Linked DNA regions of Homo sapiens: regions 1 and 2 are each linked to region 3. The links come from fine-mapping of genetic effects on gene expression. A gene starts in region 3. Each other region holds a variant in brackets. All regions are shown on one strand. Distances are from middle to middle.

Region 1 (5,000 bases), 92 kb before region 3:
GGGCGTGGCTGTGTGTGGACACTCACGTTGTTGAGGTGCTTCCACTCTTCTGCCCACTCACGCTCTGTGAGCTTGTGGTCGATCACTTCTTCCTGCCGGGACCCAGGCACCACTGTGGATGGGGGAGGTGCACGCTTAGGTCCCACCCACAGCCAGTCTCTGCCCTATTCTCCCAGACCCCGCCCTCTGCTCCCAGGCCCCACCCGTGGGCTGTGCCCGCTGGGGACGATGGACAGGGTAACCGAAGGGCTGGTTGACTTGGTGACCGTGGAGGATGCCTGGGTTACTGAGCCGCCTGGGGCTCTGGGCCGACTGCTCTTCCCCTGCAACACGGCACACGCCTCCAAGGGAGGGTTCAGTCTCAGTCCCATTCTGCAGCTGAGGAAACTGAGGCTGGTTAAGAGGATGTGTTTGCCTGTGGTCACCAGGCAGGGAGCGGTGGGGGTGGGGTGTGGACCGAGGCTGGCTGGAGCTGGAGCAGTGTCCTCAGCCACTGGCCGGGAAGGCTTTGTTAGACTAAGCGTGGCCTGAGGATGCCTCAGTGCCAAGTCACACCATGACCTGGACCTGCCTTAGTCCGTGAATCAATGGGTAACCTCACTGGGAGGAGCTGGTCTCAGTCATTCGCGGCAGCCCTCTGCGGTCACCCGCAGGCGCCCATGACTCCGATGAAGCCACGCCAAACACCACCCAACCACGTGGCCTCGGCACCCGCCTCCTGTCTCTGCCTGTGAACACCGCCAGCCAAGCCGAGGCCAGGGCTCTCGGAACACGCTGGCTCTGAGGCCCATCCTATTCGGGGTTGTTCTCTGCTCAGTTAAACTCTGTTCAATACAGCGTGTCTAAGGTTTTTCCCTTTTGACAGGCTCCAGGACTGAAGCCGCAGAGGCCACTCCCACAGGTCACCAGAAACTAAGACGTGAGTGACGCCCGGCAGTGGCCGACTCTTCCGCCGTGGCTGTGCCCATGGGAGACGTGAGTGACGCCCGGCAGTGGCCGACTCTTCTGCGGTGGCTGCGCCCACGGGAGACGTGAGTGACCCCGGCAGTGGCCGACTTCCACGGTGGCTGCGCCCACGGGAGACGTGAGTGATGCCCGGCAGTGGCCAACTCTTCTGCGGTGGCTGTGCCCACGGGAGACGTGAGTGACGCCCGGCAGTGGCTTACTCTTTCGTGGTAGCTGCGCCCACGACTTCTGGAGACATCAGAGGCTTCCAGGCCCCACTGTTTTCTGCATTTGGCCACTGCCCACGCTTCTGGGGCTGAGGTCTCCCTCTTGGGGCCCTTTTCAGCCCCTAAAGATCTCCTAGCCTCCGAACCTGAAATGGCTCCCCCAAATTGCAGAGGAGGTGGGGAAGTGGCAGCCACAGCTCAGTCACCAGCCTGCTCTGCCGCCTGTGAAGCTGCAGCTGGCAGCAACACCCCAACCAAAATAGTGGCTGAGACGTGCCCGACAGCTGGCGTTTATTTCTGTATTAGCAGAATCGGGTGGGAGTCAGCACCTGCCTGACCCGGCTGCAGCATGCCAGACGCCGTCACCTGCTGCCTGGGCCCTGGAACCCTCCGCAAGGTGGGGGCTGGGAGATGGCCTTGTGTAGGGCAAGGCCTCTGCTGACCCTGCTGCTGGGCCCCCACCGGGCCCTGGGCCTCTGTCTCAGCATGGCAGACTGGAGGCCTCCCTGCAGCCTGTCCTGGGGGGGCTCCTGGGGTGGGGCTGGGCCTGACCATCTCTGGGTTCTCAGCACAGAGGCCGTCAAAACGTCAGGCAGGCTGGGCTGTGAGACTGTGGGTGCATTATGTGTGCTCTCAGGCCTCAGTCTCCTCATCTGTGGTATGGGGGTGCTGACGCCACCCCACTGACGGGCTCAGAAACGAGTGAAGGATAAAATGCACCGAGACTCCGTGCCCACCTCTCTGTTATCCACACCAGCCTGGCCTCACGCAGAGACTCTGTGCCCCTCTCCTGCTCTAGATACCAGCCAGGCCTCACGGCAGCCCTTGCTGGGCCCTGCATTAACTCCCCCAGGCCTTGGACTCTGAGAGTTGGGACTCTCGTCTGGCCCAGGTGACAGAGGAGGAAACTGAGAAGCAGAGAGCCACGTGACTCACCTGTGGGTGGACTGTGGGAATCGCCAAGCTCGGATGAGAACCACGTGGGCAGTTCCAGGCCCGAGGCCGCCCACCCCGGGGGGAGAGGTGGGTTCAGGGCCCAGGACAGGCCCCTCTGCAGCCACCGCTCTGCTCCAGGGGGAATGCCAGGCAGGGGGAAGGGG[T/A]CTCCCGAGCTCAGGTGCACACAGCTGCCCGTGGTGCCCTGTGCCCACATGCTCAGGTGTACATGTGGGCGCATGTGTGCTCCTGTAACACGCGTCCACGCTCCCGCCCCACCGGGCTGCTCACCAAGCGGCCGATGGCGCTCTCGTAGCTCCCGGGGGTCTGGGTGGCGGTAGGCATCTCGGAAGTGGTGGGCCATGGCTATGTCCTCCAGGCGGTAGTGCGGCGGCGGTGTGGGCTGCGGTGGCCCGTTGCTGGGGCTGTAGCGCTGGGCAGGGTTCAGGGTGCATGGCCGTTTGCTGAGGTGCTCGGGGTGCAGCGGGTCGCGGTCTGACCCGTTCTCTTTGGTCCTAGCCCCAAGAGCAGGTGGGGCGAGGGCAGTGGACATAGGATGAACCGGGGACAGAGGTGCAGGTGGGGTGAGAGGCAGACAGGCAAGGGCAGAGAGAAAGAGGACACGTAAGGGCGAGACAGAAACACGGAGCAAAACACCAGCCCCGGGAAGCCCAGCCCGGCGCCCCCACTCTCTGCCCCTCTGCCGGGGCCCATGCCAGCCTCAACCCCTGCTCCAGCTGCATGGCATCCTGGGGCCTGGTGGTCAAAGAGCCGGACTCGCTGCTCTGGGAACGAGGAGAGGGATACACCAGGCTTCCGTAACTGGAGACCACCTGCCCCTTGGGCAGCAGCAGCACAAGAGCGTCTGGGGCAGCAGAGGGGGCCCAGCCCAGGCACCTGGGGACCATGGACCCCGGACGCTCGGAGTCCATGCCCGGCACACAGGGGAGAGCCGTCCTCCCACCAGCCTCCTCCCTGTCCTCCTAGGCTCCCCGGAGCATCTGAGTCTGCAGCCCACTGGGGTGTCCGCCCGTGCAGCCACCAAGCCTGCTGGCCCTAGTACACCTCGCCACGCTCCCTCAGCCCGAGAGAGCCGGCCGGGCTGGCTGCAGCCCCAGAGGAGGTTCCCTCTCTTACCCAGAGGGGAGCAGGGTGAGCCGCGTGTCCACGGCACCCCCAGCCCAGATCCCCGGAGCCCACAGGTACCTGTCGGGCGTCCTCCTCTTGCCGTTCTCGTTGACTTCCAGTAGCAGCTCTGAGGAGTCGATGGGGGAGGAGGCGCTGGCGTCCAGCAGGAGCTGCTCATGCTGGGCCAAGTACTGGGCGGGCGTCTGCTTGGCCAGGCGTGCACAGTGCAGGAGCTCCCGCTGCAGCAAGGGCAGGTTTGCCTGTGGGGTGGGGAAGGAGGGCCTGGGTAGCATGCAGGGGTGCACAGCCCTGCTCAGGTCCGAGCAGAGGGGGCCTGGGCTGGGTGGCCGAAAGCTCAACTTGACCTCGGGCCTCAAAGGTCAAGGTGCTCGACCTCTCTGGGCCTCAAGTTCCTTCCTAGCAGTGCCATGGGAGGGTGGCGTGGGAGGGTGGGCACAGAGCTTCGCAGGAGTGCCTCACCTGGGCCACACGGCGATGTGGGGCATGTGGGACTTGAGCCCAGATCCTGGACTCCCAGGGTGGGGCTTTCCCACCGCACCCAGCTCCCTCCCATGGCGTGGTCTGGAGAAGGCGAGAGGACGAAGGGGCAGCAGATCATGGTTGGTCTTCCCGCCTGCACCCGCCCTGCCCAGCAGGCACCACATGACCCAACACAGCTGGGGAAATGCAGGCTCAGAGAGGGGGAGGCAGCCCTGGGCCTACAGGCGGCTCACACGAGGGAGCTGGGAGTGAAACCCAGCTGGGATTGCCTGCAGTGTGTCTGCTCCAGCCCTGATGGGAAGCCCTGAGGTTCAGCTTCCCCTTCCCTTCCCGCTGGTTTCCAGCCTTGGCCTTGATGGAGCGTGGACCTAGGACGTGGACACCCACGTTCTGTGGCTGCTCAAGTGATCCTCCAGCCTTGGTGAGGACGGCCTCAAGACCCACGTGTGCGGGTAAAGACTCCGCAGCATGCGGCCGAAGGACGGCCCGGTGTACGGGATCCGTATGCAGACCCTGCCTTTGACGCCTGTGTGTACCCGCGGCGCCCGCCGCCTCGTCCTTGGCTCCAGGCTGGCACTGCTGGGCCGCAAGCCGGGCTCCTCGGGTGCCTTCCCCAAAGTCTTCCCAGAGCTGCCGCGGGAGGGCGGACAGGCGTGCTGGACCCTGAGCATGCTGGACCAGGGCCCAGCAGCAGGCCACTTGGGAGAGCCAGCGGTTCTAAGCATTTGTAAATAAATCCAATTCCCCAACTTTCTCATGCGTTTCAAAGCTGCCACGCCGCCTTCTCCTGCCAGCGCCTCCCCATTCCCCACGAGTGCATCCACCAGGCCCTCGAGCAGTGCCGGCTGCCGGCCTGTTTTTCTCTTTGGATGGCTGAACAGGGGCCAACCGGCCATCTGTTGAGGACATCAGGAGCATGAGCTGGGAAACGAGGTCCCGGGAGGTCTGAGGAGCCAAACATCCTCCCTCCCTCATCAGCCCCTCCCCAGGGGCCTCCTCTTGGTCAGTTCGGGAACCGGCTGGTCGCTGTTAGGGCGGGGAGAACATCTGGATCCCTGGCTGGCTGGGGCCAGCTGAGGCCAGCTGGGAGCCGGGGCGGTGGGTGGGGCTGCATCCCCCAGCTTCTGGAAGGCCTGACCCTTGGGCTGCGTGTGGGGCAGGCTCAGGAAAGGGTGCAGAGAACCCAGGACTGGGCAGCATCAGCGTAGGGGCCGGATGCACAGCAGCCCTCGGCAAGCAGGGAATGTTTCCTCAAGGCCTGCGGAA
Region 2 (5,000 bases), 41 kb before region 3:
GACCCTGAAGGAGCAGCTCGGCCGCAGAGGCACGGTGGGGACACAGCAGCCAGCAGGGCCACACAGAGAGGGTCTCAGCCACACACCTGGCCGGCACGGCCGGCACCATCGGGGGGCGACAGGCGAGGCTCCATCTTCCCTGTGCACAGTGTGTGGTGCTGACCAACCCCCGCAAGGGACAGATGGGGACACGGAGGCCCAGAGGAGCGGAGAGGAGTCTGGCCTCGCTGCCTGCCTATTCTTGCTGTTGGCAGGGCCTGGTAAAGGAGGCAGAGATGCCACGAAAGAGGCACGAAGGGCCGTGCCCTGCCCTCTTCCACCCCCGAAGTTCAGAAGGACGCATTCTTTTTTTCTCGGAGACGGAGTCTCGCTCTGTCGCCCAGGCTGGAGTGCAGTGGCGCGATCTCGGCTCACTGCAAGCTCTGCCTCCCGGGTTCACGCTATTCTCCTGCCTCAGCCTCCCCAGTAGCTGGGACTACAGGCGCCCGCCACCACGCCCGGCTAATTTTTTGTATTTTTTAGTAGAGACGGGGTTTCACCGTGTTAGCCAGGATGGTCTCGATCTCCTGACCTCGTGATCCACCCGCCTTGGCCTCCCAAAGTGCTGGGATTACAGGCGTAAGCCACCGTGCCTGGCCAGAAGGACGCATTCTTTAAGGGAGCTGAAGGCCACGTGGTGGAGCTGCAAGCCTCCATCAGGCACAGGGATACGTGGAGTCCAGCACCCAAGGCCCCTGTTCTGTCCACTTGGGCACAGCCACGGCCCAGAGACCCAACGCTGCCCCCGGTCAGGGGCAGTCCTGGGTTCTGATGTCTCTGGCGCAGGAGAGGCTGCATGGAAGGGCCCCATGTCCACTGCGCTCTGAGTACAGGCTGGGCTGGACTAGGCTGTGGAGCCCTGGTGTGGTGGCCAAGGCAAGGGGAGGGGCCCGGCAATCCCCAGGCCTGGTGAGAGCCCCCCACCACCTGCGTGGGGACCCTGGTGGTGCAGAAATACCTAGGCTCTGGAGGGCCCAAGTCAGGTGGCCTCGGCTCCCAAGTGGGAATTCTGCCTCTGACAGGGAGTAACTAGAGTACAACTGATCTTACCCTCAGTTTCCCCTCTGTAAATGGGTCTGCAGGTGGCGTGGTGCACCCGGGGGCCCAGGGCTTGGCCCCAAGCTTGCAGGCTGTCCTCGCGTGGGTGGAGCAGGCACAGGGCCTGGGGTCTGGGCTGTGCCAGAGTCTGACCATCGAGGTGGTCTCTCTGGACCACCCCATTTTGCAAAGGTGCAGACAATGAACTTCTGTTCGGGGGCCTGCAGAGAAGGGGGCCTGGGTGCAGAGCTGCATCATGCCGCATCCACCACTGAGCCTCAGGACACCACCGGGTGTCCCCCCAGAAAAGGGACGAGGCTGATGGTCCCAGTCCAGACACACACATCCCAGCTCATCACAGCCCGAAGGGGTAAATGCCTTTGTGACTGCATTTTGCGTTTGAGACCCGAGGGACAGATGGGAATATGTGGTGTAGGTCACGCAGCTGCTGGGAGGGGAGTCGAATCCAGGTGGGGGCTCCAAGAAACCGAGGGGCTGCCCATCCCCCTCCCCGCTGCCTCCGGGAACAGGGCAGGGGGCTGCAGTCACCCCTGGCCCTCGTGGGGAGCCCCTCCCCACCTGTAAGAGGGTCTCACTGCAGCTGGAGCTGCTTCCCCTGCTGGCTTGATGGCACCCTGGCTTTCCCGGGTACTCAGGGAGGTCGGGTACACTGGGCGGGGACTTCCTCATGAGTTCCATGTGTGACCTGGGGCCACCAGGGTGCGCAGGAGCCCTCCTGACTGCCCCGGGCATTTCCTGGGCGTCTCCCAGGTATCTCCCATCCTGGTCTCCGGCAGGTCCCACCTGCTGCCTCCCCGGTGTGGACTTTCCTCTGCTGAGTAAACAGAAGACTGCCCCGGTGCCTGGACTTCCTCCCCAAACCTCCTCCTGCCACGTCCACCATGACCCCAGCCTCAGGGGCAGCCAAGCATCCACCACGACCCCAGCCTCAGGGGCAGCCGAGTATCCACCACGACCCCAGCCTCAGGGGCAGCCGAGTATCCACCACGACCCCAGCCTCAGGGGCAGCCGAGTATCCACCACGACCTCAGCCTCAGGGGCAGCCGAGGAGGCTCTGAGCTGCCCAGACCCGACGGGGCAGAACCGGCCCTGGGTGGCTAAGCGGGCGGGAAACGCAGAGGCAGGCGGCCGACAGCAGTGCGGGGTGAGCTGCCGGCTGGGCTGCTGGTGCCTTGGCTCCGGGAGACATCTTCCTTATTACGGCCAAATTCATCTTTGTTTTCCTTCCCAGTGACATCTGGCTCTCAGTGAGGTCCCACGAATTACAAAAAGCAGAAGTCTGAACTTCTGTTTTATTGCCACAGGAAACTCATTGCCACAGCACAGGCGGAAAGCC[G/A]GATCCCGGCGGGTCCTGAGTCCCCAGCTCCCACCCTCGGGGCAAGCTGCGAGCTCAGAAGTGGGGACTGGGGAGCAGTTATCTCTCACTCTCCTCATCGTCAGTTTCCAGCCCAACTGCCAGGTCTCCGCCTGAGTCTTTTCCACTGATGCTACAAGGGCGGTTTCCACTCCAGGAATTTTTTTTCCAGACAAGCAAAGCCCTTGCCTGCATTTGCTCTCGGCTAAGGCGGCCCTCCCAGGCCTGCCCGGTGGGCTGTTTCCCGCAGCACGGCCTGGGCTCCGCTGAAAGGAAGGTCCCGGCCTACGGAAGCGCAGAAGCAGAACCAGGCCTTCTCACTCTGCCCAGGAAAGTCAGGAGGTGGAGAATAAAACCCCCAGGAAAGGATCTGGGGTGTCGTTCACTGACGCAGGCTTTCCCAGAGAGACTGAGCCACGAGGTGGACGAACAGCGTGGTGTCCACCCAACCTGGCCCTGACACCAGGGATGGTGACGCTGTCGTGAGCCTCCCTCTGAGCTGCCCTCAAGCGGCCTGCACCTCCCTAGCCAGTACCCCAGCAGTTGTGTTTCCACCCCTCTCCTGCCCCTGCGAGGCAGCGGGTCCCAGCCCACAGTGTGCACTGGACTCTGCACACTCCCGGCCCACTCCCTGCCGTCCCCACGCTGGCCCTCCCGTGTCAGAACTCAGTGGGAAGTTCCAGGGGCCTGACCACCCTGGATGTGTCACAGACAGAGCCCCGTGGTACCCACCCGCGTCGGGCTCCTGCGCTGTGAGCTAGGAACTTCTGTGGGCCTCGGCTTCCCGGTCTGGAAAGTGGGGCAGCAGCGGTGCCCTCAGGGCTGGCTGCCGTGAGGATCCAATGCAGGGCCTGGGTGCCTCTCACTGCATGTGACTCTGCCCCCGCCTGGTATGGAGTAGGTGTTCGATCAATACTTGCCCAGGGAATGAGCACTGGAGGACAGGCACTTTTTGTCCTGTAAGTGAAGTGGTGGCAAAGCCACCCTCCGGCATTGACAAATTGTAGAGTTTAGGTCCTTTCCGTCCCCAGGGGCCTGGGGCCAGCCTGGGAGGTGACATCGGTTGCCTGGACGTGGATTTCTATGAACACTGGATGCCATGTCTGTGATAATAGCCGGGCAATGTTCCAGTGGCTTCTGGAGGGTCTTTAGCAACAACGACCTCCCTCCCCTGCACAGCAGGGCAGGAAGCAGAGGTGGGGCTGGCCAGAGGTGCAGACCTAGAGCAGCCGGGATGAGGCTGGCCTTGGGGCTCCATGACCCAGGCAGGGCAGAGGTCAAGTTCTCCCACCCGTGCCCTGACCCCAGATGGGCCCCAGGGCCTGTATCCAGGTGAGGGCTTTTGCACCTACAGTGCTAACCCCGAGTCATGACCGAGCCCTCAGCCACCAGATCCCCCAGTCCCTTGGGGGTGCTCAGGTGCTCTAAGAATGTGGCCCGGCAGGCTGGGGATGGGGACCGACAGCACAGGCAAAGGAACGCCCGGGCAGGGCTGGACAGGGACTGGGCGGGGCTGGACAGGGGCCTGGAGACACTCGCTGCGGCCCGCCGTCAGACTGGCTCCCTGCATGACCTGTGGAGTGACTGTACCTCTCCCGGCGTCGGAGACGGGGAACGCTCCACGGCCCTCGTGGGTGTTACAGGGACGCGACAGTGCGTGTAAGCCCCAGCGCTGTTGTAGGCTCTAAGACCCACCCAGGAAGGCTCCACGACCCTGTGAGCAGGAGACACAGGCCACAGGCAGGCAGTGCAGCAAGTGCGGGCCGGGAGAGCAGCCCCATGGAGACGCCAGCGCCTTCACCTGTGGCACCAATAACAAGGCCCTGCTAGTCCCTCCATGCTGGGTCTGAACACCCGCGTGGCACACACGGCACTGGGGCACGCTGAAGTTGCTTCTGGTTCCTCCCTGCCAGGGAAGGAAATTCAGAGCCACTTAATTCAAGCACCATCCTTCCACCCTGGCACTGTGGGAGGCTGAGGATGAATCAGAAAACCCCAAAGTCAACCTGCTAACGGTGCAGCAGGGAAGGGGGGAGGCCAGCGGAGAGCCCCAAGATGGTTCCAGAAGCTGGCAGGGAAATGCCTCACCCACCTCACACCCTCCCTGCCACCCCAGAGGCGGCAGCGGCGAGGCCCGGCCCTCCCCACTGCAGCCCTGAGGGCTGGGATCTTGGGGATTAGTGACCCAGCCTGCTGGCAGCATCTCCAGATCCTCGCGTAGGGAGAAAAATTAATTTCTTCCAGTCATGCAGAAATGAAAATACGTGGAGCCAAACCAGAGAGATTTCCTGGAGGTGGTAACTGAATTACGCAGATAGCGGGCGGCAGGGGAAGAGCTCAGGGGGGCTCGGGCGGCTGGTGTGTGGCTTCGTAGCCCCAGAGGGTTCTGGAAGGCGATGTCTGGGGAAAGCCCTCCCACTCACCAGCCCTGGCTTCACAGGTGGTGACAGCACGGCCCCAGCACCACGAACCACTCATGTGAACTTCCCTTCTCCCCTGTCACTAGAGGATCCCAGCACATCCCAGGAGAGATGGAGCCTGCCGGAAG
Region 3 (5,303 bases):
ACATCTGTCCCCTGGGGGCCTTGGGAGGCCCCTGGGGTACAGGATGAGAAGCCCCAAGTGCTGGTATTCACATGTAACTCTGCTGCCTGATGTGGCTAAGGCTGTCCCATGGGTACCCTGGAATAGGGCCGGGTGGTTGCACGGACAGAAGCCCCTAGAAGCCAGGGGCAGGACCCCGCACCCAAGTGAGACCCTGCTCCCTCCTCACATTGCAGCCCCTAAGCAGGGGCTCCCTGGGGGTGGGCACAGTGGCTGGGTACTCTGTGTTAGAGGCCACCCTGGCCCTCTGCTCCTGACCTGCAGCCATGTCAGAGGTCCACCCTGACCCTCTCTGCTCCACATCTTTAGCCATGTCAGAGGTCCACCCTGACCCTCTGCTCCTCACCTGCAGCCATGTCAGAGGCCCGCCCTGACCCTCTGTTTCATGCCTCTAGCCAGCAGCCCCTCGCATGACTCAGGCACGGGGCCACCTCTTGGCCCTAACCTCCTTCCACGGTAGACACCCCCGTCCTTCCACAGTAGACGCCCCCATCCTAACAAAGCGGCGGCTCTCCATGCGCCTCAGAGCCCGTCTCTCTCCGCGCCGGTGAGAACCTGCTCTCACGCGGGGAGCAGGTCGGAAGGGTCTGAACCATGAGGAAACTGAGGCCCAGGGAGGAAGCACCCGGCCCAAGGCCACTCAGCGCCAGGGGATAGACAGGGCCGCTCCAGAGAGGACGGGATGGCAGATGCCAGGGCCAGTGGGCTGGTGCTGCCTTGAAGGTGGCTCTGAGTCACCCATTCGGGAGAAACGAACAGTAGCACTGGCTGTGGTGAGGTCCGGCCTTTGCATTCCGGGCACCCGGGGTTGGGAAGTTCCTGCTCACATCTGGGGCCCTTGTGGGGGATGGCCCTGGGGCCCCACGGGCAGCTGCAGGTGGGAACAGCCTCAGGCAGCCGCCGCCAGGACCTGCTCAGGGAATGTGGTCTCCAGAGATGGGGACACCCCTCGGTCCCGGGTTCTGTGTGTGAGTGTCAGGGGTGCAGTCAGACCTTGGACCTGACGGCCTCAGTGAGAGCCCCGCGAGACGGGAGACTGTGAGCTCCTGAAGGTTCCGACGGCTGCTGGGAGTGTGGCCACGAGGGCCACTGGGAATCGGGGCCACCAGCCTGCAGCTGCAGCCCCCAGCGTCCGGGGATCCTTGTCCTGGGACTTCGCAGGCTCGGGTGGGGGGTATCAGCAATAGCTGGCGTCCTGCTGGACTGGACCCCTCCCCAGAGCCCGAAGCCCCCAGAAGGGCAGGCCCAGGTTCCCCGTAAACCCCCACTGCCCTGGCTGGAATCGTTCCTCGGACAGGGGCCCAGGGTTGGGTCCATTTCCTCCTCACCGGGGTCTTGGGCCAGTGCCCTCCCCTCTGGCCTCAGTTTCCTCATCCAACCTGCTGTGAGGTGTCACACCCGGAGGGCATCCCAGGAGGAGGAGGGCTCTCTTTCTAGGACCCCCCCATCACTTCCCGGCTGCGGCCCTCCCACCCCCAGGAGAACACAGCCCACCCTCCTAGACGGGGCTGAGCAGCCCGGCCTCCAGCATCTGCCTCTGGGTGGGGCTGGGGCACCTGGCTGGCACCTGCCAAACCCTCACCAGCCCACCTGCCCCAGCTGTGCAGGACCTGCCTGTGGGGTGGCCCTGTTGATATCTGAGGTGAGTCAACACGGCCATCCGTGCCGGCACTGTCAACTAAGCTGGGCAGGCCCCGCGAAGCTCTAAGGAGTCACAGCCCCGGCACCGGCTGCCGCTCTCTGCCCCCACCCCACCACCTTCCCCTCGAGCCTCTTACCTGGGCCGCCCTTCCTGGGACCCCGGGGTGCGGAGCAGCCGGCAGATGCCAGGAGGCCGCTCTCCAGCACAGGGTGCGTCTGGGACATGGAGCCACAGGTGGATCCCGAGGCTGAACTGGCTGCCCTGTCCCTCAGTCTTGAAGCCGGCATGAGGAGGGCCACCCTCAGGGGCCAACCTGGAGCCCAGGACAGGCCTCTACCAGGACTGCCTTTCCCGACCTCCTGCAGCCTTGAGGGAAAGAGGAGGGGCTGGGCCAGCTGGGGCGTCCTGGAGTTGGGCCTCTGTCCCTGGAAAGCCGAGGCCCTCCCGGCCACCAACTGGGTGTCCTCTGCCCTGGGGAGGGGGTGGGAGCCCTGGGGCTCATGTGACGCGGGGCGGGCCTGGGGCTGCAGGCTGGGGAAGGTCTCCCTGCAGCCTGCGGGTGAGGCAGCCAGCTGTGTCCCCGTGATAATGCCGGGGCCGGAGGCCTGCAGCTGCGCCCGCCACTTCCCTGACAGGAACCATCTGGGGCCCTGCCCTGCGCGGCCTTCCCTCGGGCCATTCCGGTTTGACCTTCCAACAACTTCCTCCTCCCAGGCAGCTCTGGTGACGTCCCACCCACCCTGAGCCCTACAGCGTGGCCACTGGGCATGTGTTTCCTCGGCCCCAGGGCAGGTGTGCAGGCCTGAGGGCAGCTCCATCCTGGCCCAGAGCCCTTGGCCTGTCCCGCCCACCCATCTTCCCCCCAGGGCTTGGCCCTTCCTTCAGCCTGGGGTATCTGGGGGTGTCCTCCCTCTCCGCTAGCCCTCAGTCAGCCGAGCTTTCCCCAGCACCCCTTTTAGTTTGCCCCCGCTCCAGGGGCCACCCTGCCCGTGTTCCTGTGTCTGCTGACTGTGCCCTTGAGCAAGGCGGGGCCTCTGACCAGCCTCTCCTCAGCCCCTGCTCCGGGGTTCTTGGGCACCTGACCTGTCCTCAAAGTACCTCCCGCCTGCTGGGAAGGAAACCCTCTCTCTCTGCTTGGCCTCGTGCACAGGGCTCCTGGCCCTCTGTGGAGACAGCAGGGCTCCCCCACTCTCCGGGGGTGCCTCAGAAAGACCCTCACCCCACGCCCCAGCGGCCGCCTCCGGTGAGCAGCCTGGAGTTTGCGGGGGTCGGGGGTAGGTGGCTTCTCCAGTCTGGGAAATTCCAGAAGCCACCTCAGAGCACTCTTGGGACTACTTAGACCCTAGGGAGAGTCCTAGGACCCCTTTCTAGCGGCCGTTGGGCTGAGAGAGTGAGGCACATCCCAGATGCTGGGAAAAAAAGCCACTTTCTAAAGCTCCCTGACAACTGTCAGAGGGCAGGAGCTTCCTGGGAGGGGACAGTGACCCTTCGGCCCTGCAGCCCTGGTTCGGTGGCTTTTCTGATGCCATGGCTGGAGGTTTCCCGGCCTCAGACAGGCCAGAGGTGTGGAGCCCGCAGACCCAGGGCCGGCTCACGGGCATCTGTGCTATTTTGATTTGATTTGATTTGAGTTTTAGGTCACGTTTGCACGCAGTTAATAATTCAAGCCGTGCAGGAGTAAAAGCCGACTCCTTCCCCGCAGGGTCTCCAGGTGTCCCGGGTCTCCCTGTCCCAATAGTCGAGTGTCTTTCTCGAGTTGGTGACAACAAGCTGCATGCCAGCGTGTGTGTCCAGCTTACAGTGGGGATGTGTTTGTTCCTGCTGGGGAACTTCCCAGACGCCAGGCCCACCCGGGGCCTCCCCTGCCCTGGGTGGTCGGCCGTTCTGCCCCCAGGACTGAGGCTGGAGGGGACATTCCTGCCAGCCCGGGGCCCATCCCCTGGTGCCATCATTCGGTCCCCACGTCCCCTGCTGTTCCCTGTGCTCTGGCTCAGGGTGGGATTCACAGTGAGGGTCCTGGGGGCCCTGACCCTCCTGGTTTCCTCATTTGTGCAGGGTGCACGATCCTAACGGCGTCAGCTCCTACAGCGTTTCCGGGAGTGGAGACAGCAGAGGCTCTGAGCCGCCACATGGGCCGGGGCCACCGTGAGCATGTGGCTGGGGTTGGTCTGTGTCAGTGCCTATTCCCCAGCTGTGTGCAGTGAGAGTCTCAGAGTCGGGGAACTGAGGGTCTCAGGGGGCACAGCCCCCACTCCGTGAGGCAGCAGGACAGCACCCTGGGTGAGGGTGGTGGCTCCCCCCACCCGGGGTAGGAGACAGGCAGCCCTGCCCCCAGCCCTGAGGCAGATGTTCGAGGCCTGCACCTGCGCCCCCCACAGATGGGACACTTCCACTTTCGCAATGAGGCCCTGAGCTCCCCGCCTGGCCCCGTCTTGCCTGGTGTCTAATCAGGGGGTCTGACGGAGGTGGGGTTGGAAAGAGAAGAGAAGAAAGTTGCCCACAAGTTGGGGGCAGGAGCTGCCCCCCAACTTTGGCGGCCACCTGGGGGTGTGGGCACCACTCCCCACCTCCCCACTACCGGCCTCCTCTCCCCCAGGCCGGGCAGTTGGTGCTTGTGGGGAAGCAGACGTTGGCTGTGGCTTTCAGAGCTGGGCGGCCAGGAGATAAGGGGCTGGGGAGGAAGTGGCTGCAGAGGTGGGGGCAGCAGGAGGGGCCTCGGCTTCTCCCAGGGACCTCTGCTGTCTGCAGCCAGCACCCAGCCTCTCGGGGCAGGAGGGGCCTTTCCTTCCTTCCTAAAAGACCTATTAGGGCCTACTGGGGTTCTTTCGGTGTCCAAGACAGCCCCTGGTCCTGCTCTCTGGGAACTATAGGAGACACGTTCCATCAACATGGCCCAGCATGTGGGGCCCATAGGGCAGTTGGGGAAACTGTCCCTGGGTGGGCAGAGGGGCCCTAAGGCAGGCTTTGGTGAATCTGTAGGATGGCCAGAGAACTGGAGGAGGGTGAGGGGGCAGTGGGGGAGATGACGCCATGTGGGGGTGGGTGAGGAGGCCTTCCTTCAGGCAGGGTGTCTTATGTTTGCCTTCTCTTCTAGCATGTAGGAACCCCCCCACCCCCAACACACACACCCTTCACTGCTGGATGAATAGATGAATGAATAGATTGATGAATGAATGGGTGGGTGGGTGAGTGGATGGGTGGGTAGATGATGGGTGGATGGGTGGGTGGGTGGATGAGTGAATGGGTGGATGGATGGGTGGATAGATGGGTGAGTGGGTGGATAGATGGGTGAGTGAGTGAGTGGGTGGATGGGTGGGTGGATGGATAGATGTGTGGATGGGTGGGTGGATGGATAGATGGGTGAATGGGCGGAAAGATGGGTGAATGGGTGGATGGATGAATGGATAAATGGGTAAATGGGTGGGTGGATGGAGAGATGGGTGAATGGGTGGGTAGGTAGATGGATGGGTGTGTGGGTGAATGAATGGTGGATGGGTGTGTGGGTGGGTGGGTGGATAGATGGGTGAATGTGTGGATGGGTGGATAGACGGGTGAATGGGTGGATGAGTGGATAGATGAGTGAATGGGTGGATGGATGGATGGATGGATAAATGGGTGAATG

Evidence for each region.
Region 1: its variant is fine-mapped to the expression of CBFA2T3 in whole blood (TOPMed, PIP above 0.99).
Region 2: its variant is fine-mapped to the expression of CBFA2T3 in whole blood (INTERVAL, PIP above 0.99).

Annotation. Positions count from the first base shown.
Region 1 is chr16:88,882,650-88,887,649 of GRCh38, forward strand. It overlaps CBFA2T3 (CBFA2/RUNX1 partner transcriptional co-repressor 3), which reads right to left. Exons shown (of 12, transcript NM_005187.6): 6 at 3,312-3,493; 7 at 2,397-2,620; 8 at 27-112. It overlaps LOC101927793 (a long non-coding RNA gene), which reads left to right and starts at 866. Exons shown (of 3, transcript NR_135194.1): 1 at 866-1,569; 2 at 1,972-2,195; 3 at 3,093-4,487. The variant T/A (reference allele first, on the strand shown) is at 2,273.
Region 2 is chr16:88,934,402-88,939,401 of GRCh38, forward strand. All of the region lies in intron 1 of CBFA2T3 (CBFA2/RUNX1 partner transcriptional co-repressor 3), which reads right to left. It overlaps LOC107984871 (a long non-coding RNA gene), which reads right to left. Exons shown (of 2, transcript XR_001752305.3): 1 at 3,185-5,000; 2 at 2,377-2,737. LOC100129697 (a long non-coding RNA gene) reads left to right here and starts at 4,870. Exons shown (of 2, transcript NR_168285.1): 1 at 4,870-5,000. RefSeq lists an enhancer at 1,864-2,063. The variant G/A (reference allele first, on the strand shown) is at 2,435.
Region 3 is chr16:88,974,840-88,980,142 of GRCh38, forward strand. It overlaps CBFA2T3 (CBFA2/RUNX1 partner transcriptional co-repressor 3), which reads right to left and starts at 2,368. Exons shown (of 12, transcript NM_005187.6): 1 at 1,818-2,368. The coding sequence starts at 1,968. RefSeq lists enhancers at 493-1,037, 690-899, 2,740-2,789.